Regions from separate parts of the Homo sapiens genome. Here region 1 is linked to region 2. Evidence: fine-mapped expression QTL. A gene starts in region 2. The other region holds a variant in brackets. All regions are shown on one strand. Distances are from middle to middle.

What was found. PIP is the estimated chance that this variant, and not a neighbour inherited with it, causes the effect.
Region 1: its variant is fine-mapped to the expression of RNF32-AS1 in lymphoblastoid cells (TwinsUK, PIP 0.95).

The regions. Positions count from the first base shown.
Region 1 is chr7:156,800,994-156,803,912 of GRCh38, reverse strand. All of the region lies in intron 4 of LMBR1 (limb development membrane protein 1), which reads left to right. Among named protein-coding and RNA genes, the nearest start is that of LMBR1, 91 kb to the left of the region's middle. The variant AGG/G (reference allele first, on the strand shown) is at 1,123.
Region 2 is chr7:156,658,460-156,661,378 of GRCh38, reverse strand. RNF32-AS1 (RNF32 antisense RNA 1) reads left to right here and starts at 1,420. Exons shown (of 3, transcript NR_189275.1): 1 at 1,420-2,919. RNF32 (ring finger protein 32) reads right to left here. Exons shown (of 9, transcript NM_030936.4): 7 at 2,809-2,917.

The DNA.
Region 1 (2,919 bases), 140 kb before region 2:
TGCGGTGTTTGGTTTTTTGTCCTTGCGATAGTTTGCTGAGAATGATGGGTTCCAGTTTCATCCATGTCCCTACAAAGGACATGAACTCATCCTTTTTTATGGCTGCATAGTATTCCATGGTGTATATGTGCCACATTTTCTTAATCCAGTCTATCATTGTTGGATATTTGGGTTGGTTCCAAGTCTTTTCTATTGTGAATAGTGCCACAATAAACATACGTGTGCATGTGTCTTTATAGCAGCATGATTTATAATCCTTTGGGTATATACCTAGTAATGGGATGGCTGGGTCAAATGGCATTTCTAGTTCTAGATCCTTGAGGAATCGCCACACTGACTTCCACAAGGGTTGACAGTCCCACCAACAGTGCAAAAGTGTTCCTATTTCTCCACATCCTCTCCAGCACCTGTTGTTTCCTGACTTTTTAATGATCGCCATTCTAACTGGTGTGAGATGGTGTCTCATTGTGGTTTTGATTTGCATTTCTCTGATGGCCAGTGATGATGAGCATTTTTTCATGTGTTTTTTGGCTGCATAAATGTCTTCTTTTGAGAAGTGTCTGTTCATATCCTTCGCCCACTTTTTGATGGGGTTGTTTGTTTTTTTCCTGTAAATTTGTTTGAGTTCATTGTAGATTCTGGATATTAGCCCTTTGTCAGATGAGTAAGTTGCAAAAATTTTCTCCCATTTTGTAAGTTGCCTGTTCACTCTGATGGTGGTTTCTTTTGCTGTGCAGAAGCTCTTGAGTTTAATTAGATCCCATTTGTCAATTTTGGCTTTTGTTGCCATTGCTTTTGGTGTTTTAGACATGAAGTCCTTGCCCATGCCTATGTCCTGAATGGTAATGCCTAGGGTTTCTTCTAGGGTTTTTATGGTTTTAGGTCTAACATGTAAGTCTTTAATCCATCTTGAATTAATTTTTGTATAAAGTGTAAGGAAGGGATCCAGTTTCAGCTTTCTACATATGACTAGCCAGTTCTCCCAGCACCATTTATTAAATAGGGAATCCTTTCCCCATTTCTTGTTTTTGTCAGGTTTGTCAAAGATCAGATAGTTGTAGACATGCGGCATTATTTCTGAGTTCTTTTCTAAAGTGCAGAGTCAGTGGCTGACTGGGAATC[AGG/G]GGGAGGTGGGGAGTGGCAGGGGGCAGGGATTATAAAAGGATATGAGAAAATTTGGGGGTGATGGATGTGTTTATGTTCATTAGCTTAATTGTGGTGATGGTGTCATTGGTGCATTCTCATGACAAAACTTATCAAATTATATACTCCATGTGTAGCTTATTTTATGTAGTTCAATAAAGCTGTTAAAAATTAATATTTCTTATATTTGTATATGTTATAATTTTGTTCATTTTGTACTGACAATTGAGAATTAATTCTGAGACTACTTCTTTAGTTCAGCCTGTGACCTTTTTCCTGAGAGAGTCTTTTCCTGTTAACATTTAGCTATATGGATTGTAATATTGTTTGTTTATGGAACTCATTTTTATTGATTACTCAGCACTGTAGCAGGCATTGGGAAATAAAAAATGAGGTGTAGAAATATATTCATGCCTCATGGACCTTTGATCTAGAGATTTGTAATCATACATTTGCAAGCATCTCTAAAGAATATAAGAAGTTTAGGGGCCAGGCGTGGTGGCCCATGCCTGTAATCCCAGCACTTTGGAAGGCCGAAGCGAGTGGATCACCTGAGGTCAGGGGTTCAAGAGCAGCCCAGCCAACATGGTGAAACTCCGTCTCCACTGAAAATACAAAAATTAGCCTGGCGCAGTGGCGCGTGCCTGTTATCCCAGCTACTCAGGAGGCTGAGGCAGGAGAATCGCTTGAACCCGGGAGGCGGAGATTGCGGTGAGCCGAGATTGCGCCATTGCACTCCAGCCTGGGCAACAGAGTGAGACTCCATCTGAAAAAAAAAAGGTTAGGAAATGGTGGAATTTATGTTGCCTAAAAACATTACAGCATATTAGAAGGAATAGCTTAAGTTTTTCTTGCTCTGGGACAAGGGCACGTTTCTGAACCTGAAGTCCGTCTGTAAAACGGGGGACCTTCCCTCATAAAATATTAAGGTGGTAGCTGGCTGAGTGCAGTGGCTCACATCTGTAATCCCAGCACTTTGGGAGGCTGAGGTGAGTGGATCGCTTGAGCCCAGGAGTTTGAGACCAGACTGGACAACATGGTGAAACCTCATCTCTACAAAAAATACAAAAATCAGCCTGGCACGGTGGCATGTGCCTATAGTCTCAGCTACTTGGTAGGCTGAGGCGGGAGGATCACCTGAGTCTGGGAAGTCAAGGCTGCAGTGAGCCATGATCACACCACTGTCTCAGAAAAAAAGATAGCATCTTAACGTATCCAGAACAATGCCTACTATGTTACATACCTAACAGTGACAGGCATACCTTGGAGATACTGCAGGGTTGGTTCCAGTGTACTGTGATGAAGCGAATGTGGCAATAAAGTGAATCACACAAATTTTTTGATTTCTCAGAGCATATAAAAATTATACTTAACACTATAATGCCATTTATTAAGTGTGCAATAGCAATGTGTGTACATGCCTTTATTGCTAAAAAATGGTAACAATTATCTGAGCCTTTAGTGAGCTGTAATCTTTTTGCTGGTGGAGGTCTTGCCTTGATTTTGCTAAAGGTTGCGTGACCGTGGCAATTTCTTAAAATAAGACAACAGTGTAGTTTGCCATATTGATTGACTCTTCCTTTCACAAAAGATTTCTGTGTAGCATGTGATGCTGTTTGACAGCATTTTACTCACAGTAGAAGTTCTTTCAAAATTGAAGTCCATCCTCTCAAACCCTGCCTCTGTTTTATCAACTAAGTTTATGATATTCTAAGTCCTTTATTGTCATTTCCACAATGTTCACAGCATCTTCACCAGGGTAGATTCCATCTCAAG
Region 2 (2,919 bases):
CACTGCACTCCAGCCTGGGCAGCTGAGCGAGACTCCGTCTCAAAAAAAAAAAAAAATCCTAAGGCCCCCAGCAACAGAACGAACCCCCTCTTGGCCAAGGGGGCCCTAGGAAAACCTTAACAATGGAATTTCTGGCCACGATGGGAAGAAAGGTGAGATGCCCCTTATGCCCACTCCTTGCTGGAGTTTAAGCTGAAGTGACCAGTATTCCTTTAAAAGTGATAAGGCTGACGGCAGTCTGAGGCAGTAAGAAACCAAAGTACAAACAAGACCTAAGGCCATGCCCGGCAAGGGACAGTCATGCCGCAGGCCATCAGTCTTGCTGCGCAGCATCCTCAACTTAGAGATTCCCTTCTGCTGACTCCAGTATTTAGATAGAGCCCTACTCCTTTAACCAACTGCAAATAAAGAATCTCTGAATCCACCTACAATCTGTAAACCCCCACTTCAAGATATCACGCCTTTCTGGCCAAACCAATGTATAACTTCCATGTACTGACTGATGTCTTTGCCTGTAACTCCTGCCTCCCTAAAATGTATGAAACCAAACCGTAATCCAACCGCCCGGGGTGCACTTTCTCAGGACTCCTTGAGAGTGGGTTTCCTGGCCTGCAGTCACTCGTATCAGTCAGAGTCAACTTCTTTAAAATACTTTACAGAGTTTGGTTTTTCTGTCAACATTGCTTAGAAGATATTTCTTATTGTGGTTGAGGAAAAGTCTGAAAGCCACTGCCCTAGCCTATGGCTCTTGCCTATAATCCCAGCTAACTGGGAGGCTGAGGTGGGAGGTTCGCTTCAGCCCAGGAATTTGAGGCCAGCCTGGGCAATATAACGAAACCCTGTCTCTAAATAAAAATAAAAAACAACTTATACAGTTTGTTCTCAACTACCACCCCTGCAAAAAATAAAAAATCAGTTTTACTTATCAGTTTCTTCACAGATATTCAGCTTAAGTGAATTTGCTATTGAAATCATCTGAGATCATCTTAAAAGCCCCAAAGGAAAAACCACATTTGTAATATACAAGCTAGAATAGCATTCATACTTCTGTTCTTCTTGATCTCTTAGATGGTGTTGTTTAAACATACAATAGAGGTTTAGAGAAGACCAAAGAAATTGGAAGAAAGCTTCAGCTAGGCTTTGAAAAACTGGCACATTTTAAGCAAGGCAGAGGGAACCAGTAGGAACGGGCAGGACATGCGGGGGCGGGCAAGAGTGTGCTCAGAAAAGCAGACACGGGGATCAGAGCGGGGCGTTCCGAGCGATGAGGGCTCAGGACGAGGAGGCAGCAGTTGGGATGAACCAAGGATAAAACAAAAAACAGTATTTGTGGGGAGGTGGGATGGCCACAGGGCAGCGGACCCAACGTCCAGTGGGACAGAGCTATGAATCTGCCTTGTAAAGTTCCATCTCTCTGTGGGAGACACTGAATTAGAAACTGAGGAACTTGTTTGATCAGGTCTCCCTGCCCCGACTGCTCTTGGTCACTTGCTTTTTGTTATTTTTCGTTTCCTTTTTCCATGAAGCTGAAGGCTGCAGCATTTGAACACCTGAGCACTGAACGCTGAAACTTAACCTTCACTGGCTACTTTACAAGATAACACAAGGCACATTGTAATGGTTGCTTCACTTGTTTCCAGCAACCTGGGCCAGTTCTCGTCCAGTTCAATGGGCTGAGACCACCAACACTTTCAGTGGGCCTTTATCTTCAAGAGTTCTTATAAAATGATGTGTGCACATGAAAAATATTTATATATATAAGGTAAAATGACTATCAAATCTGTAATTAAAATTGTATAAGAGGTGACAAAAAATCACTTCTGATTTAAGAGACAACCTACTATGACATATTAGAAATTACTAAGAGTAGCCCAGAGAACACAACTGACTGTCAACGACTGAAGATAAAAAACTGGAAAGAATGTAAAGGAAGGATGACGCAATCGTGCATGGCGGTCCTTTACCAAATTGAGAATGAACACCCGAGACGAATGATCTCTGAAGATCAGAGACACTGCTCTCAGGAACAGAACACACAGTAACTCATCTCCATATTCTAGGAAAGGAGTTAATAGTGATAATAAATACAGAATTTCCAGCACCTACTGTGTGCTGGGCCATTATAAATGCTACAGCTCTTCTCAGGCCAACACTGCCAGGAAGAAGTGATGGCTTTCATATGACAGCCTCGGAGCTGCTGCTGTTTGCCTGAAGCCACAGGCTGATGGGGTAGGACTGTCCTTTTCATATGGGGACAAGGAATGGGAAATTGTTAAATAAGTCCCCCAAAAGTAAAACTAAAGCATAAATAGTGGTTAAGAGGAAGGGTAGACATGGAAGTTAGCTCTAAAGCTCATTGTGATGACCCCACGAGGTACTCAATACAATGGTAGCATGTGGGGGCTTTATTTTTATAGGCAGCTTCTATTTTCATTACTATGAGATGTGCAGCAGATGTCTTCATTTACATATAGCCCAGGAGATGGGAAAAATTAAGCTGGTTTCCAGTCTTGTGTCTGAAGAGATAAGTTTATTTAAACAATTAGCACAAAATGGCCAAACAGAAGTTGCTTTGATTTAACCTAATTTTATGATTTAACTAGAAAAGAAAGTCTAGAAGTATTTGAACATCTAGGTTGGAAAGCCAACTAAAGTTAAACAGGATTTTTAGCAGCATCTCACCCATTTTTAAAAAGCCCTCAAAGTGAAGTAAGTCTCAAAGTTTTACCACCTCTGTTAGCCTTCCTGACCCCAAGTGAACCACCCGCACGGAGACCATATCTGGAGAACATAATGATCTTTACCTACCTTTTTTTCAAAGAATTTTTTTCTTAACTTGGCATCTGTGGGAGGTACTGTTTTCCTCAGGTTTCTGTACCACTTTCTAACAACACATCCTCTCCAGTAGGCTTGGATTCT